Regions from separate parts of the Homo sapiens genome. Here region 1 is linked to region 2. A link means that fine-mapping ties the variant in region 2 to the expression of a gene that starts in the linked region. Tissue or cell type: monocytes. Region 2 holds a variant in brackets; the other region holds the start of a gene. All regions are shown on one strand. Distances are between the middles of the regions.

Region 1 (15,548 bases), 31 kb before region 2:
TGAGAAGCAGCCCGTTCCTCTCCTCCCTCAGGAAGCTGCTTGCTGGCCATCATGAGGTGACTTGGTAAGAGCAGGCACGCGCATGAAGCAGCCGCGATTTTCTAATTCCATCCCCCCATGCATTTATTAGTTCTTTCCGCAGAAAGAATGAGCGTTCCTCATTCATTCATTCATTCATTCATTCATTCATTCATTCATGTCAGTGTAGACTTGTGAGTTATTTTGTACCCAGTGGGTCACAGCTGTCATGATTTTGTCGCCGTTTGACGCCAACATGGCCCCAGACGGGGCGTGGGAGTCACGGAAGCTGCTCCTCCGCTTCCCGTCGGTGGGCAGCCCCGTCTCTAAGCGCGTCCCGCCTGCTGGCTCAGCAGGACCGCACGGGCTCCCTGTGGGCTGACCCCTCATTTGCCGCTTTGCCCCCCGCTAAGCCCGGGTTCCTTATGGTAGTGATTGCATTTTTAACTTGCGCGTACCTCAAAGCGCTGAGCGGTTCCCAGGATGGAAAGAGGGCGACCGATGTAGCAGGAGCTGCGCGGAGGCACTGGCGCTCACTCCCCTCAGACCCGACTCCGCTTGCATTTCCTCCTTGCATTAAGGGCACGTTAAATGCCAGGCCAGCAACACCAGCAAAGAGGAGAAGTGTTTTGCTAAGAACATTGAGCTTGAATCCGATGACAGCTCTCAGTCTCATTACCAGTTACGGAAACACGGGACTGAAAACTCCTTCCTCGACGCCCCACGCATCTGCGCAGCCGAATCCAGGGAACTCTGTAGCCAAATAAATTGCAAGGAAAAAACAAGAAAATGGTGAGGGGGAACCCATAGATACAAAGAGACACGGACATATCAATCCATCGCAGCGTCTGGATCTGGTTCCTGTTTCAAACAGTTTAAAAATTTTATGAACCCACTGGAGACATGTAAGCGCTGACTGGGATATCCACATGATTTTAAAGTGCACCTGCTAAATAGTTTAGATGTGATGTGTTATTACTGTTCAGTTTAAAAAGAGACCTTATCTTTTAGAGAAAATTCTGAAATATTTATGGATGAAACAATACGAGGCCTGGGACTGATTCGGAGCCCCCCGCCGCGGGCACGGTGGCACGGGGAGTCCCACGAGCACTGCTGGGGGTCGCTGCAGCTGGGAGTGGCCCATGGGGGCGCTCACTTCCGTGTTCTTTCCTCTTTCGTACACGTTTGAAACTTCCCATAAGCAAAAGCATTAAGCCGGACCATACAGTGAATACACGCACACGCAAACACGACAGTTTCCGGGTGTGTATGGACCGCCGTGTCTGTGACGTGACCCACAGCAGAATGCATCTGAGGGAGGCTTGCTGTGGTTGCATACGCACATCGCAGATGAGAAATCTTACAAGGCCAAAAGCAAGCCAATTAAACTGGGTGGAGAGCGGGAGTCCGGTCAAGGACGCTGGTAGCAGAGTCTCAGGCTCGCTGGTGGCGCGCCTAGGTGATTGCCCACTCTGCTGAGTCCTTGAAAGGGAAACGGCAGCGTCTGCAGCAGTGCTGGGAGCACCTCCTCCCGTCTGCAGGGGACGGTGCCTTTCAGGGCACGGTTCTGCGCATGTGCTCAGCTGGCGCCAGCGAACGGCTTCCGGCTGCTCTTAGCGTGGAGTTCAAAATCCTTGACTTGGCCTCTCAGGTCATGCACCATCCGGCTCCCGCCTGTCTTGGAGCCTCGTTTCGTTATTCTCCCACGGGTCTGTTACCGCTCGGCTCCAGCCAGCGCCCTGGCAGCCTGGTTCTCCATCCGCCCCCACTCTGCGACTTTGAGTGGGATCTTCCATCTGTCTGGTGACTTCCAGTGTGACCTTCTTCCGCCACGAAAATGACCCGCCTGGGTTACCTGCCGCACGTGATGGTGCTCTTGCAGTTTGCCCTGTGGCATGATTAATTCGTGTAGCTGTTTGTTTAGTGGGCGTGTGTCCCAGGAGACTGCAACCTCAAAGAGGGCGGGCTGTGTTGGCCCTGGTTCACCACTGCAACCCAATCCCCACTTGAGGCTGAAGCAAGAAAACGTTCTCTATCCATGTGAGCTATAATTTGAGAACACACAGACACACACTCAGGACATTTCATCATGAAAGAAGCTTCATTCTCGTGTTCACTCTTACCAATGTCACTAGGAGTTTCGAACCATAACATGAAGCCAAACACAGGGATTATCTGAGCGGATGAACATAGTATTCTGTTTTTATTCTAATAACTGGCTGCCTAGATACAGCCCTGTATATGGTAAGAGTGCGTCTACTTGGTATCCAGCAAACAAAGTGTTATGCATTAGTAATTCCTCAGTCCATGCATTTTACAGAAAAGGCAGAGGGAAGGTAAATCGTTTCCTGAGGAACAGCTGAATGTCTAGAAACGTCAAGATGAAGAGTAGAATTTTGCATGCAAGGACACGCGCCATGAGCACCAGGCCTCACACGCAGGAGGCACACAGTACGTCTGTGTTGAATGTAGTATCTTCCACTACAAGGATAAGGAAACAAAAAGTACTTAGAAACTTTACACATTTGTCATTTGGAAACAATTCAGAGATAAGTTTTTAAGATGATATGTATTAGTGCAGAGTACTAGAATTTTTCCGGAACAACTTTCATTACATTTATTTGCTCAAACAAGTGACTATTTCCATTTTGGAGAAGCCCAACTGAGCTAAATCACTTTGCCACTGAGGAGGGCTGGGGAGGTGGCAGGGGTGCCATCAAGGTGTCGTCTGGCTAACACACATTCTTTCTATTTTTCTTGTTTCTTATGGAAACATTCATGGCTCCACGCCTGGCATTTGCTGAATCCATCTTCTAGAGATTACGATTTTAATAGAATCCGGAGTGAGGTACCTGAGGAAGGCAGAATGAAGCAGCATTTTAAAATGTATTGCAACATGAGCATCAGAACCTTTTGTTTTTTTTAAAGCACAGAAAAGAAAAATGACAAGACTCATGTCATTAATTACGTTCTCAAAGAAAATAAGGTCAGTGTAAGAGGAAATCATCTAAAATTGCAGGACAGGGCATTCTCGTTGGATCGAGGCATGAAGAAAACTTCAAGGCTGTCAGTGGTTTATCGAGGAAGTGGTAGAATCTTCCTCGGATACGATTTTTAGAAGACAAGCCAACCTTCCATGGCAAGAGGTGCAGACGTGTGCCTCAGCTGCCAAGGGCCTCCCAGGCTGTTTCCTGTGCACCAACTTCCTCTGCTTCCTCGGTGTCTAAACCCATGGTCAAAGCACCATTCACGAAAAGCATGTTACTGTTTTAAGTTAATTTGAACTTTAAAATTATTGAACCATAAGGAAAAATATCTCTGCTTTGTGGTCCTGGATATTTTACAAGAACCTTGATTCCTTTAGTGAATCTTAATTCACAGCTCAGTGCTGGGATATTCAACAAATAAAATCACTTTTCAGAGACAGGATCAGAATCTGCTACTTCCTGCTCCTCAGCCTGCCTTGCCAAACCCCCAAGTGGCACCCTGGTGTAGACATTATGGACCTCAACAGCAGTACTTTAGCCTGATGCCTAGAACCTCTTACACTTTTATGGAAGTGGCCTAAGAGTGTTTGTGACGGGATTCGTGGTGTCTCCAACTTTCTCTCTTGCGCTGTCCCACCCTGACCTGTGGGGGGAGAGAGGAAGGAAGGAAGAAGGGGGGAAGGGCGTCTGGTGTCAGACGCTTACAATAGGAATTGCTCACCTGCAGAAGGGCAAGTATTGTTTCTTCTAGAATTAGTATGAATTGGATTTTGTGAATTTCAGCTCTTTCTTAGAAGCTTAGAAAAAAATTTGGTATAAACATTTGAAATAAAAAAATGCAATAAGCAACAGAGTTAGATCTTGTCTCTACAAAAAAATTTTAAAAGAATTAGCTGAGTGTGCTGGTGGCACCTGTGGTCCCAACTACTCAGGAGGCTGAGGCAGGAGGACGGCTTGAGCCCAGGAGGCCGAGGCTTCAGTGAGCTGTGATTGCGCCACTGCACTCCAGCCTGGGGGACAGAGCAAGACTTCATCTTAAAAAAAAAAAAAAAAGCAATATTAAAAAGGTGTATTGAAAAGGGAAAAACACTCTAAATTTGAGAGTTTTAGTTAAAATGAAAAAGCAACAGTTAGGACCATTTCTGATCCTCAAAGTCAATACTTTTGAAACAGGAGAGGGAAGGGAGGTGGGGGAGCCCTGGAGCTGCTCCCAACGAGTGGGGCAGGGGCCTCAGACGCAGGCTCTAGAGCCCAGGCTGGACCTGGCAGAGGACAGTTCAGTGTCTCTGTAGTCAAACAGGTGTCAGAAATATCATGAAACCCCCAGTTTATTCGTCATGATTACACTCTAGCCCTGACTGGGTTTTTTGCTCATTTTTTGCTCAGTAGCTTAAAGTTAATGTTGAAAATGTCAAAGAGGCCTGCAGATACCCCTAGAGAGACAGCAGTTTGTTAAAGGGGATAAAGGGGAAGTGTTTATGTTTATAGCACAGAAAGTCAAGCTGTTAGAGAAACTGGACAATGGTGTAAATGTGAAATGTCACATTTGCCACCACAAATGGTGGCAGGAAGGTGAGGAAGAGAAAGAAATAAAAATACTTGAGATGAGGCCCGAAATGGAAAATGGAATTAATCATCCCATTGCTCTAAATGCTCTAAGTGCGCTAAAAGCATTTCTTTTTTTCTTTTTTTGAGACGGAGTCTCGCTCTGTCGCCCAGGCTGGAGTGCAGGGGCGCGATCTCGACTCACTGCAAGCTCCGCGTCCCGGGTTCACGCCATTCTCCTGCCTCAGCCTCCCGAGCAGCTGGGACCACAGGCGCCCGCCACCACACCCCGCTAATTTTTTGTATTTTTAGTAGAGACTGGGTTTCACCGTGTTAGCCAGGATGGTCTCGGCCTCCCAAAGTGCTGCGATTGCAGGCGTGAAACACCGCGCCCGGCCAAGCCCTTCTCATCTTAACGTCCTCTTTCAGCAGAAGGAACTTATCCTGGTCCTAACTGTTGAGGTCACTGCTGACTCTGCCCCCGGCTCCAACGGTACAAAGTCACCTCCAATTTAAAGATGCTACAGAGGACCCCGTCCGCACGTGAGCTCCCCGGAGTGATGGAGGGGAAAGGGCTGCCTTCCCATTGCCGTGCGTGGAGAGCAGCAGAGACTGTGTTTGGACTCCTGCCACGGAAAAGGCTGCGTTGGCCGTGTCTCCAGGGAGGACAAACTAATTTTAACAAACTGACCCAAACAGGACTCGGAAGGTCAGTATGTTGCAATCTCCGGTCCTCCTGCCTGCTTCGTGGTTCGTTCCAAAAGCTAAGTATGCTGTTTCAATTTGATCTGCTATTTCGGGTGATCTAGTCCCTGTTAGTTCTTGACAGTCCAGGAGGCGCCTGGTGGGTGGAGAATCTTCCCCTTTCTCCTCCACAAACCTGACCCTTGTGGAGAAGGCAGCCTGGAATCCCCTGGGTTCTGAATGTCTCCGCCTTTTCTCCAGCGCAAGCGCTGGGCCTGAGCACAGTCTCCGCACAGAGGCCTGCGGTGTCGCGGGGGTGGTGAGCCCTGGCTCGTCCCTGAGGCTGAAATCTGGCTTTTGGGCTGGGGGTTCTGCCTCTCACTGCCTTTGGCCACAGCTCTCTCCTCCACCCTGAAAGGCCCTCGGAGTGGAGTTGGGAATACAGTAGTGACAACGCGGGCTCCAGGGAAAACGTGCTTGTGATGTGGTGCCCACGAGCTTGTTTTCCAGACTTGGCTCTACTGAGCAGCCCTGGAAGTTGAATCTTCACGTTGTCCAATGAGACATAAAGACTGGAAAGAGTCTTTCCATCTCTGACATACCCAGCACCGAGCTTCCCTCTTTTTTTTTCGAGACAGGGTCTTACTCCTTTTGCTCAGGCTGGGGTGCAGTGGCACAATCTCAGCTCACTGCAGCCTTGAACTCCTAGACTCAAGGGATCCTCCCACCTCAACCTCCTGAGTAGCTGAAACCACAGGAATGTGCCACCACCATGCCCAGCTAATTTTTGTATTTTTTGGAGAGATGGGGTTTTGCCATGTTGCCCAGGCTAGTCTCAAACTCCTGGGCTCAAGTGAGCCTCCCATCTTGACCACCCAAAGACTGAGCTTATAGTTGAGAGCCACTGTGCTGGCCCAGGCTTCCCTCATTTATAAGGTGGGGCCAGGTGTCTTATGGCAGACTGGATAAATATCCATGTCATTTACTGTGTGTGTGTCTGTGTGTGTGTATGGTGGGGGTAGTAAGTTTGAAGGTAGGGGCTGTACTGTTTCTCCCTTTTCATCTTTTTTTCCTTTCTACTCCCTCTTGAAGAACATGAGAATTTGGGTAACAAAATGCCTCTTCATTACAGGGATACTTTGATGTTAAAACCCTAGGGTGAAATGAAATGGACTTAACAAATGCCTGCCTGCCTATCTTTTTTGTGGGGTCTAACTTGTACCTGCTTATTCTTTGGAAACCTCTATTTCTTTTAGGTGCATCCCACGGACTCATTTAAATGTTCCCTGAGTGCTTCGTCTGTGCCGCACGTTGCTCTGCGTGGTGGAGATAAATGAGGAGTAGAAGCTGCGCCTGGCCTGAAGGCACCCCAGGTCACTCTTGGGGAAACACAGTGCCCATCGCTGATGCTCACCAAGGTTCCGGTCCTGCGGACAAGCCCCTGCCATGCACCTGATCGTGGATCTGGCCTCTGTGACCGGCTCTGGAAGTTCCCATGAATGGACTCTTCCTCGGCATGCTTCCGGGTGGCATCCGTTCTTTCCCCGCGTATTGCTTAGGGGTTCTATGAGAATTTCTCTGAGGGAGCCCTGGGGTGAGGAGGCCGCAGGGACCCAGCTTTCAAGCGGCAAAGGCCAGCGGCTTCTCCGCACAGCCTGTCCCTGCGTCCTCAGGCTGACGCAGTTTCTGTAAAGGGTCACCCTGACGGATGCTAACAGCGGCTTCTCCGCACAGCCTGTCCCTGCGTCCTCAGGCTGACGCAGTTTCTGTAAAGGGTCACCCTGGCAGATGCTAACAGCGGCTTCTCCCGCGCAGCCTTTCCCTGCGTCCTCAGGCTGACGCAGGTTCTGCAAAGGGTCACCCTGACGGATGCTAACACTTTTTATTGGCTTCCTCTCCTCCCTGCCTTCCCTTCCTGTGCCCACATCTGTCTCTGGGGCTGGCAGGACGTCAGGCTGCTCCTCCGTCTGGTTAAAGCTGGGCCCAGTTGCTGGATGTGGGGCTCTGCTGGGAAGCTTGGAGACAGGGTGGGGACCGCAGGGAGGCAGCTCCCTTCTGGTTTGCCAGAGGGACCAGGAAGCAGCACCCACAACCCCTGCCTACCCCATGGCTTATTTGTCTGATTAACTCGTCATCATCTGCTGAAACCTAGAACGGGGTCTTAGGGTGATTGATTGCTTAGGAACAGGCAGGGGAGGGGGCTCAGGGCACCAAGGGGCTGCAGGACTTGAGTCAGGGTCAGGCTGTGGGATGGGTAGAATAAGCGGAATTATACAATCCTGGACCACTGGTAATACCAAGGACCTGTGTGTACCTGCTCCCCACCCCACACACCTTCCTTGGTGTTGTGGTAGAAATAGAAGCAGAACTACGAAGTTTCTTCCTTCAGTACAAGCCACAGCGGTTCTGGATACAATTTCTAACCCACCCCTCCTTGCACGGCACTGCCTTTCCTTCCTGCCTGATCCCTGGGCCCAAAACCCTCGTGACTTTTTTAAGTCATATATACACCGGTTCAGAAAGACGTCTGGCTGAAAGAAGAGAGTTATGCCCTGATTCATTTTCACCTTAATTCAATTTAAATCAAAGCAATCGTGAGCTGCTGTTCTCCATGGCGACGGCTCATCGTAGCTGTGGAACTCCACACACCTCACCTGGGGCAGCTGGTGCTCAGAAGGCAGATGGGAGGTCAGGTGCCCCTCGGAAGCCACAGCTGGCCACCCCTCGGAATGCTTGCTCCTAATTCTGCATCCTCTGCTTATTTAAGAGAACAATGTTACAAACCCATGCTGAGACATCCACCTTTTCCCCCGTGGATCTTAGGGTGTGGGGCCACTCCAGGGCTTACTGCTGCGGTGGCAAACCCTGGAAGACAGTGGGATCTCACTGAGACAGGCCCTCTGCGCCCCCACCTTGGCTCCGGAAGATGCCTTTGTACTTGTGCTTGCCTCCCACTTGCACGAGGTTCTGAGCCCTTCTCTCCATCAAACCAAAGTGGTAGCATGCAGCTGGGCTGTTGGCAGCAGTGCTCAGTGATGGGAGAGCTTAGGGAACATTCGCTGAAAGAGAGAGATGAATGAAGATTCTTGAACGTGGAAGGCTGTGATTTTGTCAGACAAGAACACCATGTGGGAAATTAGGGCCCAGAAGACTTGTTCCCAGTTGGACCAGGCTTATTCGACAGTCACCCAGGACCTGGTCGCCTCTTCTTGTGGGTTGAGAAGATCTTGCCTCTCAAAGGGAGTAAAACTGAAGCACCCTCCTCACTGGAATACCAGGTGAGAAAGGCCAGTGAGACAGATGCCAGGGCCCTGGCAAGGCGGGTGCGAGGCCCCCCCCCCAGTTCAGGAGGAGCCAAAGGAAGCGCGTTGGGCTGGGGCCTGGTGTCCGTCGCCCATCGGGGGCTTGCACAGCGCTGCGGCTCGGCGGCGGGAACCTCGGTGCCGTTCACTCCTTGCGGTGGGGGAACGGAGCCCTCGTTCCACAGGCCCTCGGCCTTCCCCACTGGTGAACTCGAGCTGAGCTGTGGGGGCAGAGGGGGCAGCAGCCCCTCCGTGGAAGCTCAGCATCCACAGGGCACCTGCAGCAAGGGAGGCAGAGCTGGGCAATATCCACGCAGCGTGAAGGCATTTAGCAATCAGTCGGAAACTAAACTCAATACGATGCCTCAGAAGACTGGTGATTCGCCCCGATTAGACGGACCAGTCCTTACAAATTGCCTTTTCATGTTGTGCTGTAAATAACCAACGTATGTAATAACATTATCATACCCCAGATAGAAGATTCCAGGGGGAGAGACTCAAAGCTGCAGGTTGACAGTTGCCCAGAGCCCGAGGGGAGGTGACCAGTTTTGCTCCCAGCTGTCACTGGGCTGGTCCCTCCCTGCGCACGGAAGACGAGAGGAGGCGAAGCTGCGGGAGCACCTCCTGAGAAGGCGCCACATGGCTCCCGTGGCTTCTCCGGCCCCAGCTCACCTCTAACCCAACCCTGTGCGGCCAGGGCAGGGGCGTCCTCTCCCCCCGCAGCCCCGAGGGTCCCTGTCGCTGGCCGGGCACCAGAGAGGCTTTGTGATCGTCCCCAGCCAGCGTTCCCTCCCTGGGCCATGAACTCTCTGAAGAAAAGGGTGGTCTGCTTCCCTCTGTCCCTCTGAGGCGGTTCCTGAGGCAGTAGGTCCCAGTGATCATGGAAGGTGGAAGGAGAAGCGTGGGAAATGAGGATGTGGGGTTAGCAGGAAGCGACGGCGCCCATGCCACTGCCCGAGGGCCTCGCAGCTGCTTGTGAGGGGCTGTGTCCACCAGCAGCGAGGGTGTGCTGGGCCCAAGGTCACCAGCTCCAAACAGTTGCAGGTGCGTCTCAGCCAGGTTCTTCCCTCCAGCATCAAGGCACCTGGGGTCCTGGCTCCTAGGTCTTGTGGAATTTGCCTACAGCACGAACAGCCTTCTGGAGACCTCCACACAAAGAACCCGACAGCCCCCCTGTCCTCCAGCTGGCTACGTTCTACGCATCAGGAAACCAAGGCACACAGACATCACCTTGGGCCACACGGCTGGTGCAGGGGGAGGTGGCCGTGAGACCACGCGCTTCAGATTCCACAGAGCCGCCGCGGCCGATGGAGCTTCCTCGCGGTGACCCCCGGGCCCTACTTCCCCTGGGGCTGGAGCCCACACAGCCGTCTCCTCTCTACGCTGCGTAGGCAAACCTGTCTTCTCCACAGGAAACCCAGCTGCCTCTAGAAATTAACCACATTCTAGAAAGTGGGTTTGACTCCTGCATACACTTTTACTTTCTCATTTGGGTCTCCGGAGGAAATGAAAATCCACGATTAGCACAGGAGACGCACGTGACCCGTGTGGCTTGCACCATTTGTCGTTTTCCCACACATCAGCGCCAACCGGGCATGCGTGGTCCTCACCCACAGGGACTTGCTCGCTCTGGGTTACTTCTGGACAAAAAAGTCTCTGCAGCCGCCCTTTCAGTGTCTGCACGCCTCATCCTCCCTCCTCCCCAGCCCGTAGCCCGGGCCCAGGGCCTGCGGCCGCTTCGTGCTCCCAAGCTGTGTCTCACGGGGGCACCCACCCTACCGTGCCAAGCAACCTGCTGATGGGCAGAGGGAAGGAGCCCCTTCTTGGCCTCCAGAGCCCAACAAGAACCAGCTCCTGGTAACAGTGGGGTGAAGCCAGTGACGTGGGTTGATAGGAAGCCATTCCATTTAGGAGATCATTTGAACATGATGTGGATCAATGGTGTGGAATACAGAAGAAAGGCCCCCGGGCACGGCCTCCCCAACCTCCCGACCCCAGAGCCAACAGCACGTTGTGGATTAAGCCCCAGGCCCTGAGATGTGGATTAGCCTGGATTCCCCAGGGGAGCCCAGTGGAAGAACAGGGTCTGTACAGGGGACAGAGGGAGGAATTCGGCAGCGGCAGGGGTGGGTCAGCGAGGCTGGAGATGCAGTGTGGCTCAGAGACAGGGAAGGGGCCAGGAGCCCAGGAATGTGTGGCCTCTGGAAACGGGAAGAGACATGAAGAGGTTCTCTCGGAGTCTCCGGAAGGAGCCAGGCTGGCCAAGCCTTGGTTTTTTACCCCAGTGGGACCCTTGTCAGGCTCCTGACCTGCAGAACCGTGAGGGGATGAATGTGTGTCTTGTAAGCCTCTCAGCTTGTGATGGCAGCGAGAGCTCCCCAGGAGGGGCTGCGAGCCGATGAAGAGGGAGGGTGCATGGTGGCCTCCGCCTGCCCCCTGGCCATCTGCAGTGGTGCCCCCGTGTGCTCATTAGAGCTTGATGCCCTTGTGCCTTGAAGACTTAGTCCAGACATTCTATGAAAGTGAAGAAGGTGGCCGGGCGTGGTGGCTCACGCCTGTAATCCCAGCACTTTGGGAGGCCGAGGTGGGTAGATCACTTGAGGTCAGGAGTTTGAGACCAGCCTGGTCAACATGGTGAAACACTGTTTCTACTAAAAATACAAAAATTAGCTGGGTGTGGTGGTGTGTGCCTGTAGTCCCAGCTACTCGGGAGACTGAGGCAGGAGAATTGCTTGAACCCGGGAGGCAGAGGTTGCAGTGAGCTGAGATCATGCCACTGTACTCCAGCCTGGGTGACAGAGTGAGACTCCATTTCAAAAATAATAATAATAATAAAATAAAATAAAAATAGCCAGGCATGGTGGTGTGCACCTGTAATCCCAGCTACTCGGGAGGCTGAGGCAGGAGAATTGCTTGAACCTGGGAGGCAGAGGTTGCAGTGAGCTGAGATTGTGCCACTGCATTCCAACCTGAGTGACAGGGTGAGACTGTCTCAAAAAAACAAAAACAAACAAAAAAAACAAAGTGAAAATGGCATGGGCAAATGATGCCACACGTCCCCTGGCCCCACACTGCCATCTGTGCGAAGAAGGGAGCAGGACGCTTCAGTGGGCACTGGGAGGGAGGCGGCACGTCACCGCGGTCCATGCCCTGAGCGGTTTCAGGGTGCGGAGCTCTGTGCACGGATACACCTCTCAGGCCCCTTTGTCTCAGCCAACAGTTGAGTGCAGTCAACTGTGTAATCGAGAACCCAGAGTATTTCTCTAGGAAAACTGCTCAGTTCTTTCCAAAATGCCACGAGAACTTCAATGATGGGAACGGGGAACAGGTGCTGGGAGCAGCTGCCACCGATTCACGGCTCTTCTTCTTTTAAATACATTTTCTGTGGGGAAACCAAGGGCTTTCACAAGCATTTTGCTCTGAAATATTCAAGGAATGTTTCTTGTTTTTTCTTATTACAGCAACAGTTTTAGTATTTATAAGCTGAGTCAAGAGGCCTGCCACAGAACTAGGGAAGTAGCAAGTTAGAGGGATAAAAAAAATCTCAATTACTAACCCCTGCAGTTGCTTTGAAATAGCATTTGGTTGTCTACTGGCAGCTTTCTGAGATGAATTCTTGACTCCTTTACAAACCTAGGCTAAAACAGGCGCTCAGAGACTGTGTGTAAACTGTCAAATGTCACCCTCAGGCGTTGGGGGTGGGCGAGCACCCGCCCTGGTGACCTGACTCCGAGGGTTTCATGGGCTTCTGCCCCATTTCCTGATCCGCTGTCACGCAGCATTCCCGGCATGGCTGGGGGAGGGCCCTGTCTTCTGGGAGCCCCAGAGTCCCTGGGCTGGGCCACGCTCCCTCCGCAGGTGTTTATGGTGTGTCTTTGTGCTGGGCCTGGGCTCGGTGAGCAGAGTCAACATGATTCTCGGGAGAGCGTTTATGGTCCGTGAGACAGATGTGAGGTGTGTGCATTCCCCACACAAGAGACAAAGTGAGGCCCCGGTGTTTGCCAAACTGGGATCGCTAGTAGCAGCAGGCTCTGTGGCGCCCACAACAGCTCTTAGACTTGGAACGACCGGAACACTAAGGGCTTCGTACTTGATTCTCATTTGTGTTTTGTGCCTCCTGAAAAGCTGGGTCCAAGTCAAGTCAGCTAGTTCCTGAGGTGGAGGATTACAGATGTCCCCACTTTCTCCATACATATGAGCAGGTACAGGGTCCCCACCCCGCGTCACACATGCTTCTGTGGGGAAGGCTGTAGGCTTTTCTCCCTCACAGGCATTTGTAGTAACGGGTGCTATTTGCTCACAATGTGTTGAATCTGTGGGAATGAAAGCTGCTTAGGGCCATACCGTTAAATGGTGGCAACAGATATTTTTAGATTAAAAAAGAATGTCACCTAAGAAACAAGAGCACACTTACCTCTGATGTCCCCAAGGCATTAGGTAGAATCCCGTTGTCCACACTGACTGGGTTTTAGGGAGGGATTTCGTGGCCTGCCTTTTTCGTAGAAAGTGGCCCCAGCCAGTGTGACCTGGTCTCTGAGCCTTGTCGTCACAACCACCTGCTGAGTTCCCAGGCTTCCTGGTGGGCACTTTTCCTGCCATTTATCAGGTCAAAGTAAAGTGGGAATTGTCCAGTGACTGCCAGTAGCCAGCTCTCAGGCTGCTAGTAGACTCACGCTTTGGGGGCCGACTTCTCTGGATAGCTGCTCACATTTCCTGCCTCAGTCAGCCCACTCCGCCCAGCATTTGCCCCACAGGCCGAGGGCCCTGGCACCCCAGATGTCACCCTTCCTCCCGGGAGGGCTGCAGGCAACGGGTGAGGTGCGGGCTCACACCTAGGAGACAGTGACCCATCCTCCCACGGGGCTTCCTTAGCGGGTGGTGAGGTTGTTGAGTTCTGAATCCATTCAGTGACAAGGACTGATGGTCACCGTGGGGCAGTGGGGGCTGTTCCGGGTATGGGGTGCCCCTTTACCTCGGGTGTGGCTGCTCTATCTTAGGAGTAGCGGGCACTTTCCTCCTCCTTGTACACCGAGTGAGTTCCCGGGGGCTGCCATGGCAAATTACCTCCTCTATGCAACTGAAATTCGTTTTCTCACAGTCCTAGAGATCAGAATTCCTGGATGCAGGTGTGGGCGGGGCTGGCTCCTCTGTGGCTGTCAGGGAGACTCCAGGCCTCTCCCAGCTTTGAGTGCTGTGAGATCCTGGTGCCCTTGTCTTGTGGGTGCATCACCTTGATCTCTGCCTCCCTCTTCCACAGCCTTCTTGCCCTGCCTCTGTGTCTCGTGTCCTTATAAGAACACCAGTCACTGGATTCCAGGCTGACCCTCATCCAGCTCAACCTCATCTCCACTCTCAACTATCTGCAGAGACCTGTTTCCACACAAGCTCACATCACGAGGCTCTGGGGGGACGTGGATTTTGGAGGAACACCTCTCAGCCCACTACAGAGCCTTTTACTACCATCAATCAAATGAATTTTTCAAAGGCACGTCTGTTATACATTTTTTTTTCAGTGAGCTTTTTCTGAGAACTTTTTGGGTTCAAAGCACCCAGATGGTATAAATGACGTGGAAAATGGCCCTCCCAAAAAGATGCCATGAGGGAGCTGCACATGGGGCTGGGGGGAGTCGGAGACAGCACGTGTGAGCGGACGTGTGGCCGGCACCCAAACCAGACGCCATGTGATTACAGATCCTGCAGGGAATTACAGGAGGCAACTCAACGTAGGAGATTGGTGTCATACTAACAGAAAACCAAGACTGAAGAGACAGGAACGACTGTCCGGGTTTCCCAGACAGGACCGTCCCAGGAAGCAGACAACACAGGCCTGCGTGCGGCCCTGGCCTTGAGTGTGCTGGACGCAGGGGACCGTCCCAGGAAGCGGACAACACAGCCCTGCGTGCGGCCCTGGCCGTGAGTGTGCTGGACGCAGGGGACCGTCCCAGGAAGCGGACAACACAGCCCTGCGTGCGGCCCTGGCCGTGAGTGTGCTGGACGCAGGGGACCGTCCCAGGAAGCGGACAACACAGGCCTGCGTGCGGCCCTGGCCGTGAGTGTGCTGGACGCAGGGGACCGTCCCAGGAAGCGGACAACACAGGCCTGCGTGCGGCCCTGGCCGTGAGTGTGCTGGACGCAGGGGACCGTCCCAGGAAGCGGACAACACAGGCCTGCGTGCGGCCCTGGCCGTGAGTGTGCTGGACGCAGGGGACCGTCCCAGGAAGCGGACAACACAGGCCTGTGTGCGGCCCTGGCCGTGAGTGTGCTGGACGCAGGGGACCGTCCCAGGAAGCGGACAACACAGGCCTGCGTGTGGCCCTGGCCGTGAGTGTGCTGGACGCAGGGGACCGTCCCAGGAAGCGGACAACACAGGCCTGCGTGTGGCCCTGGCCGTGAGTGTGCTGGACGCAGGGGACCGTCCCAGGAAGCGGACAACACAGGCCTGTGTGCGGCCCTGGCCGTGAGTGTGCTGGACGCAGGGGACCGTCCCAGGAAGCGGACAACACAGGCCTGCGTGCGGCCCTGGCCGTGAGTGTGCTGGACGCAGGGGACCGTCCCAGGAAGCGGACAACACAGGCCTGCGTGCGGCCCTGGCCGTGAGTGTGCTGGACGCAGGGGACCGTCCCAGGAAGCGGACAACACAGGCCTGCGTGCGGCCCTGGCCGTGAGTGTGCTGGACGCAGGGGACCGTCCCAGGAAGCGGACAACACAGGCCTGCGTGCGGCCCTGGCCGTGAGTGTGCTGGACGCAGGGTACCGTCCCAGGAAGCGGACAACACAGCCCTGCGTGCGGCCCTGCCGTGAGTCTCCACCTTTCTGTCTCTCTGGGCTGTGGCTGGGCAGCACGGAAGGGGGGAATCACCTACCTTTTGGTCCAGAAAAATCCATTCCACAGTTTCCACCTTCCCTCACTGACAAACGGGATTTTAAATCCCTTTATCTGGAGACAAACAGAAAGTGTGTGCTTGTGGCGAATAATTTCAGCTGATATTCTTACCAGCTGTTAAGAAACACAT
Region 2 (15,548 bases):
TTAGGTCATTTATACAGGCAGCACAAAGCGTAGTAAAAGAGCTGACTCACAGGCCTGTGTCGCCCCCCGTGAGCCCTGCAGCTGCTCCCAGAGCCTTTGGATGCCCCAAACCGTGTGTGTGGGTATTTTTTTTTTTTTTTTTGGTAAAATGTGCCTAGCAGGAACTGTTAACATGTTAAGTAAATAAAAATATTTTTAAAAGATACATTTTCACAGCTCTTAAGAAAGTTTAAAGTGCTCCATTCGCGGTGCTGCATTCAGGCCAGGGCATGACTGAATTTTCAGGTCTGATGTGGTCTTGACTTGAGAGAAAGTCGCGTCTGCGTCTGCGTCTGTGTCTGCTCCGCAGGTGCTGCTGCAGCTTCTGGGAGGTGCAAAGGGACTAGACATTTCTTCCTGGAGTCTTGAGGTGTCCAGGCCCAGAGGCAGGAGGGTGGACATGCGGGGGTTAGGGTTCCGTGCAGCACATGGGTGATGTTGCTTCTCTGGGTCCTCCCGGAGACACGCTGCTGCTACAGGGGTGGCTTCACAGCGAGGGGCTCTGGGAAAGGCAGGCTAACAAGGCCACCCCTCAGGAGAGCTGTTAGGGCCACTCCTCAAAATAACAGGCACCGAGCAAAGCAGACACCATTTGGTGTCTGGTTCCAATGGGAAGGGCAGCGGCCGCGGCCAGTGTCTTTCCAGGCCGGCATCACAGCGAGATCCTGCCCAGGCCGTGGGACACGCACGCGTCCACACCCTCCAACCACAGTCCTGCAACTTTCCAGGAACACACACAAAGCGTCCCCCACAGATGTGCGGACTTTCCCATGGGTTCTGTAAGATGTGATGTCATGGCCTCAGCCTCAGTTTCCTCACTAGTCCTCTGATCATATCCAGAATGAAATCACCCCCAATTTTAAGGTCAAATTCTATCTTTCAGGTGAGAAACAAAGCTTGCGTTAAAGGTCGAGATTTGATTGTAGGTACTGGGTTTTTAATCTTGGGTTTGGTCTGTGTTTCCTGCGGCCCGAGCATGGGTCAGTGTGTGTCTCTGAGCTGGGGAGGGTAGACTTTGTTCCCTCCCAGGCCTTGCTCCTGGGTGTTGAATGCCCAGTGCGCAGTGAGAAGGGGGTTTGAGGCCCATGCACGGGGCAGGTGTGGATTTTGCTCCAACCTCACTTCAGCACGACAAAGGGAGCAGCAGAGGGGCTGTGAAATCCATCCTGTATCTATGTGGGGCCTGTGCCCAGCCCAGCCTGTGGCTCCCGCTCTGCCCACAGCCCTGGGTCGCACCCCACAGCTGGCGGGGGGATGCCTGTCCCGTTTCCACATCTCACTCACCTGCCATGTTCACGGGCACCGGCCCAACCTTGGGGCTGCTGGTGGCCAGGACGGGATGGATGGGATATGACAAAACCCTCAGTCATCACAGACCCCTCTTAGACCCTCACAGCACTGCTGCCCCACCCCCGGGGAGTTGAAGGAAAGGGAGAAGAACGTGTGTGTAGTTAAAGATGAGGGGAGCTGCGGGGTGGGGGACAGCGTGGGAGCCGCATGTGCTGCTGTGAAGGTGTCAGGAAGGCTGCCAGAGAGCCGGACCCCAGAGGGAGTGAGACCCCCTAGGGCTGCAGGCCAGACCCCTCTCCGGCAAGGCCTGGGGGCCGGGGTGGGGCTGGGTCTCCACACCGAGGGGCAGCCGCTGGAGGGGAAGGCAGGCAGCCGGACCCCCCCCACTCCGCGGGACTCTCCGTCCTGGGCTGAGCTTCGTCCTGGGCTGGCTTTCCTCTAGTGCGACTATGAATGAAACTTCATTCCTCCATTTCCGCTGGGACAGCTGTGCTGCTGGTCCCTGAGCATGCACCAATATTCACAGGAAAAATCAACTTTTCCAACTCACTCTTTAATGTTGTTTTAGGCTAAAGTGCTCTAACAAGGGACCTGCAGCCGCCTTCTTCTACAACGTCTCACTGCATCTCCATAGTCTCCATATTCTCTGGGGACAGCCTCGCTGAAATGAGGTGGCTTCTCTGGATGTCCGTTCCCGCACGGTGTGGGTCGGGCTGCAGAGGAGGGTGGCCGGAGACCAGGCTGCAGCTGCCTCGGAGGCTGCCATCCGACCATGCGGGCACACCCTGCTCTCCCTGTCGCGTCGCTCTGAGAGCTGATGGTGGGGTATGGCTGGGGAACCTTGCGGCCCACTGGAGGGGGTTTAATTGCCGGCTTCCACATCATGCTCTTAGTTGTTACTGAGTGAGTGAGACGGCTCCAGTTTCTGCTCCCACAGGGCTCAGCATTAGGAGAGGCGACGCTCACTGGGAAACGTCTCCAAGTGCGTTTCTGTGGTGTGAGATGCAGCCGCTCATACCGGCCAGCGCTCCCCGCTCTGCGTTGCAGTAACTTTGAGCCACAGACGCTGGTGAACAGCTTTTCCTCTGCATGGGAATCCAGCCCTTCCCACACACAGCCCCGTGTTGTAAAGACCCTGGCTGTCTGCAGCAGGCCAGTGCCAGGCACAGCTGTGAGCCTTCAGGGAGCCCTCCGGAAACCCTGGCTGGACCTCTGGCCCCGCGGGCCGCACACAGACCGTTGTTGGAAGGCCTCGACTTGACTTCATCTTGGTTTCCTTCTGGTGTACACCGTCATCTCGTTTTTCTTCTCGGTGTACACCGTCATCTCAGTTTTCTTCTCTGCATATACCGGCATCTTGGTTTTCACCGGCATTGGGGCCAGATGCCCCTTCATCTCCCTGTCTCATTATTCATTCACTTGTTCACTCTGTAAACGTGTGACGAAGGTGTGGACAGGAGTGGGCTTGGCTCTAGGGGCCCAGTGATGGGTCAGGAGGTCTGGCATCCTGGTCCTTTGTCCTTGCCTTTGATATTTCTGCCCTAAGGCTGTACGATGATTTACAGTTTAGAAAAGACCACCCCATTATATTCTGTGGAAACTTCCCAGCCCCTGGGAGCTGAGCTGGGTGGATGGCGCCCATGTGAGGCAGTGCCTCGGGAAGAGCTCATGGTGCCTCCTGGGTCTGCTGCTGCCCTTGCCCTCCTGCCTCTGCTGCTGCCCTTGCCCTCCTGCCTCTGCAAGCTCGTCTCCTGCGTGGCGTCATTCTCTCCTGTCCAGGAGCCTGGTACACCCGGCGGAGGGGCCCATGGGCCGCAGCTGCCCAGTGCATGGGAAGGAGCAGCCGCCGGGCCCCTGGGTCCCCTTCATGACCCCACCTCGGTGGATGCTGGTGGCAACTGAGGAAAAGTGTTCTGAGTGTGTGAGGAGAGGTGCTGAGACTGATGTCATCAATCACACACGGAGAGCAGAGCCGTGTCGGAGCCGGGGTGAAGTCATTCCAGCTTTGTTATCCTGGGGTTCCGGCGAGCGCCGCGTGGGCAGAGCCCGTGTTTATGCTCAGGGAGGCGGCATCGCCCTGAACAGTGTCTTTTCTGTGGCTCAGGTCTGCCCTGAAAGCTGTTCCTTTTACACTCCTTCCTGTTCGTCAGGTTTTACCTCAGTGTGGAAAGAGTGACAAACAGAAAGAACAGGGGCCATAAGCACAGTTGCTGGGGGTGGCGAGGGCTGGAGCTGGGGGCGGCTGCAGGGGCGGTGAGGGCTGGAGCTGGGGGCGGCTGCAGGGGCCTGGAGGGCTGGAGCTGGGGGCGGCTGCAGGGGCGGTGAGTGCCGGTGCTGGGGGGCGGCTGCAGGGGCGGTGAGGGCCGGAGCTGGGGGCGGCTGCAGGGGCGGTGAGGGCCGGTGCTGGGGGCGGCTGCAGGGGCGGTGAGGGCCGGTGCTGGGGGCGGCTGCAGGGGCGGTGAGGGCCGGTGCTGGGGGGCGGCTGCAGGGGCGGTGAGGGCCGGTGCTGGGGGGCGGCTGCAGGGGCGGTGAGTGCGGGTGCTGGGGGCGGCTGCAGGGGCGGTGAGGGCCGGAGCTGGGGGGCGGCTGCAGGGGCGGTGAGGGCTGGAGCTGGGGGCGGCTGCAGGGGCGGTGAGGGCCGGTGCTGGGGGGCGGCTGCAGGGGCGGTGAGGGCCGGTGCTGGGGGCGGCTGCAGGGGCGGTGAGGGCCGGAGCTGGGGGCGGCTGCAGGGGCGGTGAGGGCTGGAGCTGGGGGGCGGCTGCAGGGGCGGTGAGGGCTGGAGCTGGGGGCGGCTGCAGGGGCGGTGAGGGCCGGTGCTGGGGGGCGGCTGCAGGGGCGGTGAGGGCCGGTGCTGGGGGCGGCTGCAGGGGCGGTGAGGGCCGGAGCTGGGGGCGGCTGCAGGGGCGGTGAGGGCCGGTGCTGGGGGGCGGCTGCAGGGGCGGTGAGGGCCGGAGCTGGGGGCGGCTGCAGGGGCGGTGAGGGCCGGTGCTGGGGGCGGCTGCAGGGGCGGTGAGGGCTGGAGCTGGGGGCGGCTGCAGGGGCGGTGAGGGCCGGTGCTGGGGGCGGCTGCAGGGGCGGTGAGGGCCGGTGCTGGGGGCGGCTGCAGGGGCGGTGAGGGCCGGTGCTGGGGGCGGCTGCAGGGGCGGTGAGGGCCGGTGCTGGGGGCGGCTGCAGGACGGAGACACAGCAGCCTGCAGAAGGGCGCCAGCACTCACCTTCGTGTTCCGCATGGCCAGGAAGTTCTGATTAAGACTGGATGCAGTGTAATGAATGACATGATAATGGATGATCACAGAAGCTGGTTTGTGAGGCAAACAACCACACTTATAAAATTTGGTTTCCCACGGTTCTCGCCCAGGGAGGGGAGCCCACGCCTGCCATGTAAACATCTCCCTTTCACCCCCGTGGGCACCCAGCAGCCGGGCATCAGGGCTCCAGGCAGGCGCTGCTTGCATCCGCTTGGGTGTGAGGTCCCAGGGCTTCCCAGGGCTTCACAGCGGGGGCCATTTGCAGGAACCACTCTTGGAGAACAGCCGTGTGATGTTCCGACCAGGAGGACTGCACAGCCAGGGCCATGGGAAGGGGTTCACGTTTCAGCCATGTGGGAAAATCCCAGGCCCTCAGGTTGCATTTGCAGGCTTGGCGTGAGAGCCCTCGCGACGGCTGCTCACCCTCGCTCTCCCACCCCGTGGTGCAATCTGACCTTGGTGCTCTCCCCCGGCCTCTCCTGGATTTATTCCTCATCCACGTTTTGTGACAGCAAAGCCTTTGAGGAGAAGGCCTGGGGCCGACGTGGGTTCCGTCCCAGCTCTCCCAGGAGCTGGTGCTGTCTAGGGTCAGGTGCGGGACGTCGCTAGCTGCATCTCTCATCCATAAAGTGAGGAGACCCGATCACCTGCGAGGGCCTGGCAGGAGGAGAAAACAAGCTCCTCGTGTGTCTCTGCCAGGTGCACAGTTGGCCTTCAGTCAACGTCCCCTGCTCAGCAAGTTGCTGATTATTTACAAATTTAGAATATCCAGAATTCCTGAATATTCAATATGGCATTACTCATCAGCACTGAAATTTCTAACTGAAGAAAGTCTTTTCCTGCTCCGAACTTACTTTAAAAGTCTGGTTGTACTCAAATATCATCTGCAAAGTGGTCGTGTGGCCTGGAGACCTTGCAGTCGACAGACAAAGCGGCCACAGACAGGGAGCTGAGGTCATCTGGGGCGGCCACAAGCCTCTCTCGCGGGGCCCTGTGTCCTGCGGGGACAGCGAACCACAGCGCTCCCTCAGCTCAGCCACCTAGGACCAGCCACAGTGGGGGGCCCGTGAGGAGGATGGTGCAGCTGTGGGGCCATCCTGACACCTGGCCATTCGTAGGAAGGCCGTTTGCTCTCAGGAAGTGATTAGGGGAGATCCCCGGGGCCTCCCTGAGCTCTCGGGAGTGTTTTGGGGACACAGAGCCGAGTTGCCAAGGGCGGCCCTGCTGTTGACAGGCTGCTGTCCTTCTACGTCTGGGCCTCAGAGCATCTTCCAGGGGAACTGCAGTTCTGTGTGCAGGCGCTGCCTCAGTAAGTTTCCCGCCTCGGAAAGGTCCCCGCAGCAGCTCTGGATGTTTGGGCGTTTGACCAAGGGTGAGGCCCAGGGACAGCTTGGGACACTGCGTGCATGCACAGCCAGGCTGCACCCCATTAGCAGAAGGTGTTTAACACTCGACACATAAATAATAGCGTTCACACACACATCTTATCACAATGCTTAATAGCCTTATCAAGAATCAGGAGAAAACAATGCATCCTTTTATAGCATTTTAAGTTAAAGAAACAAAAACAGTGAGAGAGGAGAAAGCTGCCCTGCCAAGAACCGTTCCTGTCTCCCTGGCCCTCAGCACTATTTATGACAGTACCCGCGGGTCGTCGCAGTTATTATTATTGTTGTAAATGCTCCTAGAAGTGGGCCGTCCCTCCCCAGCAGACAGACCTCCCTCTCAGCCGGCCTCTCCTGTTGAGCTTAATTGAATGTCCCGATGCATAGGAGGAGGGTTAATGGCATAACTCAGTCACACAATATCTTGGATTACAGACAGCCAGCAAGCAAAGGCCCGGCAGCATGGCAACGGGGCCGGCACCGTGGGAACAGGCGGGCGGACAATGATGGGATTGACAGTGTGCATGGAAAGGCCACCTTTGGGAGAAACCGTATCTCCCAGCATGCTGGGGAAAGTGAGAAATAGTGGCAGATGCTGCTGGACTGCAGCAACAGATGCTTCTGGCCGGGCCCCGCCAGCCAACCAGATCACACGTCGCTAAGTAGGGAGCACTGCTCCCCGCCCCCGCTCTTTGTCGGAGGGAGGCAGCAAATACAAATATTGCAGAGGAATTAGAAACAGCAGATGGTGGCAGCAGGGCTGGATGAGGTCAGGGTTAGGCACAGGCACATTTGGTGGTGGCATTAATCACCCCTTCCTCTGGGAGTGGAGAGCTCAGGCCTCCAGCACAGCCCGGAGCTGACCACCTCCCTGCGCTTCACTCCGCCCCTCCCCGACGCCTGCCCCGCTGCCTGCCCCCCTCTCGAAGGAGGCTGAGCCCACAGATCAGCTTTTAGATGTCTCATCCAATTTAGCAGAGTTTAAAAGAACATATGTTGAATATTTTGTTAATTCAATTTGTGTTTAAATAATTGATGTTGGCCAGTTCCAAATGTGAGATTCTAAAGGGCTCATATGCTGGTTTGATGCATTATCTATCATCCTATTGTGCGAGGTCAGTTGTTTTCATTACAAGACAAATACTCACTCTCTCTTTATTATGAGCTCAGGCGGCACCCAGTTTAGAGTGTCTGTAATCAGGAGTGTTCAGAAAGAAGTTCTTGTAAATCGCAGACTCCTCAGTGGAAGGTCAGCGGGCAGAGGAGAGACCTGATTCCCCGTGACCTCTGGGGATGGAAATTCCACTCTGGAGACTTTCTCGGGAGGACGTTCTGGTTTCACTGAAAGGAGTATGACTCTGTGAGGAGGGAGAATGTGATTTGGTGTGTGCTTGCATGTGGCGGGACTGGCGTCTGCCGTCCATATATGTGAGTGTGTCTTTGTGTTCCTGTGTGCTGACTGGAGGTGCTGTGTGTGTGTGTGTGTGTGTGTGTGTAGGTGTAGACATCCCTTAATAGCTTACCTTATGAAAAATAAAACCTGTGGGGTCGGGTGCGGTGGCTCACGCCTGTAATCCCAGCACTTTAGGAGGCCGAGGCGGGCAGATCACTAGGTCAGGAGATGGAGACCATCCTGGCTAACACGGTGAAACCCTGTCTCTACTAAAAATACAAAAATTAGCCAGGCATGGTGGTGGGCACCTGTATTCCCAGCTACTGGGCAGGCCGAGGCAGAAGAATGGCATGAACCCGGGAGGCAGAGGTTGCAGTGAGCCGAGATTGCGCCATTGCACTCCAGCCTGGGTGATAGAGCAAGACTCTGTCTCAAAAAAAAAAAAAGAGAGAGAGAGAGAAAGAAAACTTGTGTTCTAAATGCTTTCAGAAATGAATCCAAAGATTCTTTAAGGGTTATCACATTTACGGCCAACACGATAGTAGGATTTCTTACAA[C/T]GTTTATGTTTTAATACCTTAAGCCACACCTGCGTCTTTTCCAAGGCTCAGAGATGGCTTCCTGACCGCACAGAGGAGTGTCTTGGGGCAGACCTGTGGGCTGTGAGGGGCTTTGCCTGTCGAGCCCTCTGTAGGCCTGGATCCTGCCTCAGGCACCCTGTACTCAAAGCGTCTCTGTTGGGGCCGTTACGGTCTGCGATGGTATAGCAAGGGGCAAGTGTGAAGAATTCCAAGTCTTTGACCTTAAATAAAATGTTTCTCTCCTTGAGGTAGAAAGAAATCTAGATGTGATTTTTATGCTTATGAACACAATTTGTTCCAATTCAAAAGTAATTGCTGCTCATTCTAGAAAATCTAGAGAAGAAAGAAGTAGAAAAATAAAATCATTTGTGTCTCGCCAGCATAGGCAGCACTGGCCATGTGGTATTCCTTCCTTTCCCACGTGTAATGTCCGCTGTCTGTGTTTAGAGTTAGGGTCACTGGTATTTCTTTTTTTCTTTTCTTTTTTTTTTTTTGAGACAGAGTTTTGCTCTTTTTGCCCAGGCTGGAGTGCAGTGGCGCGATCTCGGCTCACTGCAACCTCCGCCTCCCGGGTTCAAGCGATTCTCCTGCCTCAGCCTCCCAAGTAGCTGGGATTACAGGCACCTGCCACCATGCCCGGCTAATTTTTTTATTTATTTTTATTTTTATTTTTAGTAGAGACGGAGTTTCACCATGTTGGCCAGGATGGTCTCGACCTCCTGACCTCGTGATCTGCCCACCTCGGCCTCCCAAAGTGCTGGGGTTACAGGCGTGAGCCACCGCGCCCGGCCTGAGACCGGTATTTCTTCCTCCCTTTCCCATGCGTAACGTCCACTGTCTGTGTTTAGAGTTAGGGTCACAGCTTCACTTTAAACCTTGATTCGTTTGCTTCACATTATTATGTGTGCATGTCTCTGCCTTTGTCTTGTCTATATAATAGTCCACTGACTTGATATATTCTCTTATTTAACATTTTCTTCTTTTTAATACTTATTTGAACATTTGAAATGGTAAAAGTCTTTGCTTTCACAGACAATTCTGGGATAAACTTGCTTTAAAGATATTTTCTTTTTCTAGAGCTAAAAAAACTTATTTGGGCTAACTTTTCAGGAGTAGAATAATGGGACACATGTAGAAACAGGAAACAAGGCCAGGCACGGTGGCTCATGCCTGTAATCCCAGCACTTTCGGAGGCTGAGGCAGGTGGACTGCCTGAGCTCAGGAGTTCAAGACCAACCTTGGCAACACAGTGAAACCCCATCTCTACAAAAAACAAAAAAACTTACCTGGGCGTGACGGCACACACCTGTAATCCCAGCTACTTGGGAGGCTGAGGCAGGAGGATTGCTTGAAGGCAGAGGTTGCAGTGAGCCAAAATATCACTGCACTCCAGCCTGGGCAACAGAGCCAGACTCCATCTAAAAAAAAAAAAAAAAGAAATATGAAACAAAATAATTTCCCTTTCTTTCAGTTCATAAAGAGACATTGTAGCTAGCTGAAAGAAAGAAGAAAGAAAAAACTAACAGAGCCACTGTTAATATGTAATGTGTATCCTTAAAGTTTTCCTCCCTTTGCTTATATTACATACATCTTTCTCAAAACTGGGGTCCTTCAGTTTTGTAAGCAGCTTTCCTTTAATTGTGAGAAAAACCCACATAGCATTAAACTCACTCTCCTCAAAATTCCCATGCGCGTGGTGTGATACTGCCAGCCGCACACTCATTGCCGTGCAATGGAACTAGTTCTTTAACTACGATGTTGTGAGCATCTTCCTGTGTCATTAAATATTCTTTAAAACATGATTTTATCATGTCTAGAAAGTGTTTAATCATACAGATATTCTAAAATTTACTTAACCCCCTTTCATTGATCATGATTGTTGCATCTATTTATTACTCCTATTAAATAAAGCTGCGATGAATATGCTCGTATAAAAATGGTTCCATAAACTTCTAATTATTTCTTTAAGATCAATTTTGGGAAACAGAATTACTGGTTAAAATGCACAAACCTTTGAAAGGTTCTCAGTTATACGCTACATTGTCCTCCCAATATCTGAACGTGTGTGTGTAGTTTATGACAGTTTCTTGTGTCCTTGCTAACTCTAAATACAGATACTAAATATTATGGAATATTTATAAATGTATTTATTATAATATTTATCACATTAATAATATAGATACTAAAAAGTTTGCAAATTTGGTACCATGTACAATTTTAATTACTTGTGAATCTAACCTATAAAAATATGTTCATGGTTCACTTGCATTTCTTCTTGGTGAACTGCTTATTCTAGAACCCACTTCAGATGCTTCATACTTAGGGACGAGCTACTTCCTGAAAGCGTGGCCCCATTTTACTCTTACATGGGATCTGCGGTGGATTTGGGAAAACCAGGTTGACTTTGCCTGCGTCCCTGTGTCCCTGAGTTCAGGTAGAATTGTGCTGTTTTAACTGGGTCTGGAATCCTTCGGTCTCTTGGAAACCACAGGGCCCTTTCCCCACGGACAACAGGTTGAGTGGTGTTTTCTCTCCTCTCTGTGTATTACAGGACATGGGGGTCTGCTGGAGAGTTCTTAGGAAGGAGCTACCACTCCCCAGGCCCCTCAGCCCTTCCTAATTCTTCTGGGGCTGGAGTATCCTACTGATCAGTAGTTCAGTCATTCCAAACTAAGGTCTGGTGGGGGACCTGAGTTCTGGGTTTGGGGGACTCCACTTATGTCAAGCTCAGCAAGCATGCAGGGAACAAGGATGCTGCTTTTTGAAGAGATGTGTGTCACCCACCCCACTGACACCCGTGTGGGCTCAAGCCTGGGCACTCTTGCCATGGTTTCTGGGACAAGGCAGCAGGCAGTGATGGCCACTGGAGGCGTGGAAGCTGGAGGCGTGGCCCCTGGAGATGTGGTATTCCCAGTAGGAGGTCTCCGTGTGGGCTTTGTTGGTTTTGTGAGACTTTTAAAACTGGGCAAAATGGTGGGTGTTGGTGAGTTTTTCTAGGTAAATGGTCAGTTTCTTTCACTGGCTTGTCAAAGGAGTCCGTGGCTCTGAGACAGAGAAGTCAGAGACATTTGAGGTGGAGGCTAGCCAGCAACCAACCTAATTGCAGATGGTGGTTTGAAATTTCTTCTACGCATAATTGTTAGTGTCTACAGGATGTTCTATTGGTACAGATTCTAAGTTTATTTAACTAGCCCCCTTTTGTTGGGCATTTATGTTCTAGCTATATTTTGTTATAAATATATATTTTTATGACTGAGTTCTTGTTCTGATGCCTAGCATTTTGCAGCCTTGGTTCCTTCTGATGTCTAACAGGAGTCTTTGCAGTTGAGCCCATTGTTTATACTTCAGAGGCCTGGGAGCAGTGGCCAGTGCACGCCCCCAACACTCACTCCCAGTTTAGTTTTCAAGGCCACTCTGGGCGTCGAGGCTGATAAAACCACACAGCCATACTCACAGGCTCTCTAGAAAACACGTTTCAAGCCTCCCAAACCATTGATATTTTAGCTTAGAAGAAAGCGATGCTCTGAACTGATCACGCCGTATTAGTGGCGCTGCACCTGCCTTTCTTGTTCCTGGGGGAGTCTGGCCCCCGACATCCCTTGGAACGGTGTGCCACACAGAAGTTGACAAGGAGCTTCTCTCTTCCACTGTGGGCTGGTGCAGGCATCACCGTGAAGCAGGGGGAAGAGTCACGAGGGGCTCTGCTGGAGTCCCCCAGACATCGGGCTTTTCGCTCCATTGCTGTTGGTGGAGAGGGTCCTGTGAGCCAGGCACTGGGTCAGCCCCGGGACTCAGATAGCACGGCCTCACCCCAGGGAGAGGCTGGGGCAGAGACATGCACAATCCCCCGCAAGGATTTGGCTTTTCCAAGTGCCAAGAGGGTCAGGCTCGTGGTCACTAGAAGCTGTACTTGGGCCCTGAACCCAGTCTGACAAGGGCTGTGGCCATAGAGCACTTCCCTTGAGAAAGGAGCATTTGAGCAGACACCCGGAGAACCCACTGTGGCTGACCAGGCGGGGCCGAGGAGCAAGACCTTCCTCGGGAGAGGGGCCAGCATGTACAGAGACCCCAAGGCACCTGGCAGCCGGGGCCTGGTGTGCTGTCCATGGGTCTCTCCTGTTTGCGATGGCCGAAAAGCCACAGTCCCCCAACCTGCCTCCGGGCAGCATAGTGCTCCCTTGAGGAGGGACCCCGGGCTGACTGCATCTCCATGGAGCACGGCAGTTGCAGTCCCTTTTTGCAGCTGCTCCTGACTGAGGACTTGAGACCCTGGGATGTGGGTGTCAGGACCCTTCTGGAGCCTGGGGGCTGTTTTGTTTTTAAGAACACACAAGCGAGTTCCTGACTCCTGCCCTGAGCTCCAGCCCTGTACGAGCCCCTCCATGTGCAAATCGGCTCTGGGGCTCCAGCCTGCCCTCCTGGGCCCTTTCCATCACCCTGCACAGGCCCTTTCTGAGGAAGCTGTGGAGTTGCTGGGCTGCATTTCTCCCTGGACAGGCTCCGCCAGGAGTTACTTCTTCTGTGAGCCTCATTGGACCAGGTGCTCCTTTGCCCAGCCCAGCACCGGGCTCCTGCCCTTCTGGAAGCCTGGAGGCTGGGAGGATGGCACAGAGCACATGTGGGATCCAGTGAGAGGCACAGAGCACATGTGGGATCCAGTGACACCGTCCTTCGCAGTGAGGGAGATGCAGTCGTTTAAGAGCACAGGTGGGATCCAGCGACACTGTCCTTTGCAGTGAGGGAGACGCAGTCGTTTAACACGTGGGATCAAGCGACACTGTCCTTTGCAGTGAGGGAGACACAGTCGTTTAACACGTGGGATCCAGCGACACTGTCCTTTGCAGTGAGGGAGACGCAGTCGTTTAACACGTGGGATCCGGCGACACTGTCCTTTGCAGTGAGGGAGACGCAGTCGTTTAACACGTGGGATCAAGCGACACTGTCCTTTGCAGTGAGGGAGACGCAGTCGTTTAACACGTGGGATCAAGCGACACTGTCCTTTGCAGTGAGGGAGACGCAGTCGTTTAACACGTGGGATCAAGCGACATTGTCCTTTGCAGTGAGGGAGACGCAGTCGTTTAACACGTGGGATCCAGCGACACTGTCCTTTGCAGTGAGGGAGACACAGTTGTTTAACACGTGGGATCCGGCGACACTGTCCTTTGCAGTGAGGGAGACGCAGTTGTTTAACACGTGGGATCAAGCGACACTGTCCTTCGCAGTGAGGGAGACGCAGTCGTTTAACACGTGGGATCAAGCGACACTGTCCTTTGCAGTGAGGGAGACGCAGTCGTTTAACACGTGGGATCCAGCGACACTGTCCTTTGCAGTGAGGGAGACGCAGTCGTTTAACACGTGGGATCCGGCGACACTGTCCTTTGCAGTGAGGGAGACGCAGTCGTTTAACACGTGGGATCAAGCGACACTGTCCTTTGCAGTGAGGGAGACGCAGTCGTTTAACACGTGGGATCAAGCGACACTGTCCTTTGCAGTGAGGGAGACGCAGTCGTTTAACACGTGGGATCAAGCGACATTGTCCTTTGCAGTGAGGGAGACGCAGTCGTTTAACACGTGGGATCCGGCGACACTGTCCTTTGCAGTGAGGGAGACGCAGTTGTTTAACACGTGGGATCCGGCGACACTGTCCTTTGCAGTGAGGGAGACGCAGTCGTTTAACACGTGGGATCAAGCGACACTGTCCTTCGCAGTGAGGGAGACGCAGTCGTTTAACACGTGGGATCAAGCGACACTGTCCTTCGCAGTGAGGGAGACGCAGTCGTTTAACACGTGGGATCAAGCGACATTGTCCTTCGCAGTGAGGGAGACGCAGTCGTTTAACACGTGGGATCAAGCGACACTGTCCTTCGCAGTGAGGGAGACGCAGTCGTTTAACACGTGGGATCAAGCGACACTGTCCTTTGCAGTGAGGGAGACGCAGTCGTTTAACACGTGGGATCCAGCGACACTGTCCTTTGCAGTGAGGGAGACGCAGTCGTTTAACACGTGGGATCCAGCGACATTGTCCTTTGCAGTGAGGGAGACTCAGTCGTTTAAACGGAAACTCCCCCATGTTCACCACATCTTGCTTCCAAAGCACAGGTTCTGTGTTGAGACAGTGTTTACTCTGCAGGGAGGGGTGAATTTCTAAGGCATACAAGCTAGTTTCAGATGCTGGCCAGCTCTGCTGTTCCTGCTCAGTTGATATCTGAAAGCCACTTTCCAAATCTTCGTTCCTCTTACTTTTGGATTTGTTGTGTGTTTTCCATGTACCGTGTTGAGTAGATGGGAAAGGAGTGTGTGCACATATTTGGATCAGCAGCTCTGCACCCAGGAAGAGTGTGGGGTGCAGGCTTTCCTGTGGCCTCGAGAATCTTTGGGACGCCGGGGTCTTTGGGGGATGTGGTATTTGAGCGATGGAGCTTCTCGACACCGTGCTGGGCCTGACTGTGTCTCCCCAGCTGTCCTGGTGGCCAGTGCTTATGCTGGGCGCCCTGGGCGGCTGCTCCAACCTCTTCTGTCTTGGTTGATTTTTGGGTGAAGTAAAAAGGAACTGAAGGGTTTTCTTTCCGTCGACTCCGGCTAATGACACGTCACCTGCTCCCTTGGCTGTGGGGGAGTGGTGCAGGGGGGTTAGAGGAGGAAGGGGCCTGATCTGCTGTGTCTGCCCAGGGTCCTGGATGCTGGAGGGTGGTGGCAGGAGACAGGGAGGGGGGCAGGCTTCAGAGGGGAATGTGGAATTCAGTTTCTGGAGGAGGAACCCCCCAGCGGCCCTCCCCTGGCTCTCCATTCACAGCCACAGCCCCCCAGCCTTCCTGAGCTGGCCCTGCAGGCGCCAGGTTCCTGGTGCGGCTCTGAGTTCAGTTTATCTGGAAAGTGAGTGGCTGACCTCCGACCTGGGCCTCCATCTGGGGAGCGTGGTCACGTGGAGATGCTCTGGGGGGAAGAGTCGCTTCCCAGATGTGATTTAAGGATCATCGTGAGAAACTAACGGTGGCAAAGTGACCATTTTTCTGCGGTTGTAAACTGACAAATGGAAAACAGTCAACCATTGATTATCTATGTAAATCGTCAGGTTTTATTTCTCTGCATGCAATAGGAAGTTTCTTTGTTTTACTTTTCCCCATCAAGGAGCCAATTAAATCAGACTTCCCTGTGCAGGCAGGTCCAGCTGTCAGGGACTTGTTCCGTCAGCCCCTGTCATCTATGAATGGGAAATTAATCAGCGCCATTAGGGAGAAAACTCCCACTCGACACCACGGCCTTTCTTTCCCCTGATTGTGATTTCATACCTTTTATGTAAAGCAGACTTCAGAGCCTCCACCTATTTAAGGAATTTTTCAATTAACATTTCTTTTGCTCGAGAGAGACCAGGGCCTTTGGTTCTCCACAAAGGCTGGCTTTACTTTTCCTATCACAAATGTGCCCAGGTCAGTCCCCGCAGGCTGAGGGCCTATTATTTGGCATTGATGATTTTGTTTAACCACCCCCCCTCCCCCTAATCAATAGCTGATCAGTGCACAGCAGGGAAGTCTCTGCTTTAAATCCGCTGCTCTTCAGACTAAAATCGTCTCCTTTGAATAAAAACCTGCCTCGGTTGAATGTTAAATCCATCTAA

The links. PIP is the estimated chance that this variant, and not a neighbour inherited with it, causes the effect.
Region 1: it holds the start of LINC01624, and the variant in region 2 is fine-mapped to the expression of LINC01624 in monocytes (TOPMed, PIP 0.93).

The regions. Positions count from the first base shown.
Region 1 is chr6:170,266,531-170,282,078 of GRCh38, reverse strand. It overlaps LINC01624 (long intergenic non-protein coding RNA 1624), which reads right to left and starts at 9,605. Exons shown (of 2, transcript NR_104177.1): 1 at 6,649-9,605; 2 at 2,610-2,870. It overlaps LOC285804 (a long non-coding RNA gene), which reads left to right and starts at 5,317. Exons shown (of 3, transcript NR_126021.1): 1 at 5,317-5,394; 2 at 6,491-6,748; 3 at 13,794-15,410. RefSeq lists enhancers at 14,306-14,882, 14,883-15,459.
Region 2 is chr6:170,235,147-170,250,694 of GRCh38, reverse strand. No RefSeq gene overlaps it. Among named protein-coding and RNA genes, the nearest start is that of LINC01624, 30 kb to the left of the region's middle. RefSeq lists enhancers at 4,765-5,530, 5,531-6,296, 15,542-15,548. The variant C/T (reference allele first, on the strand shown) is at 7,913.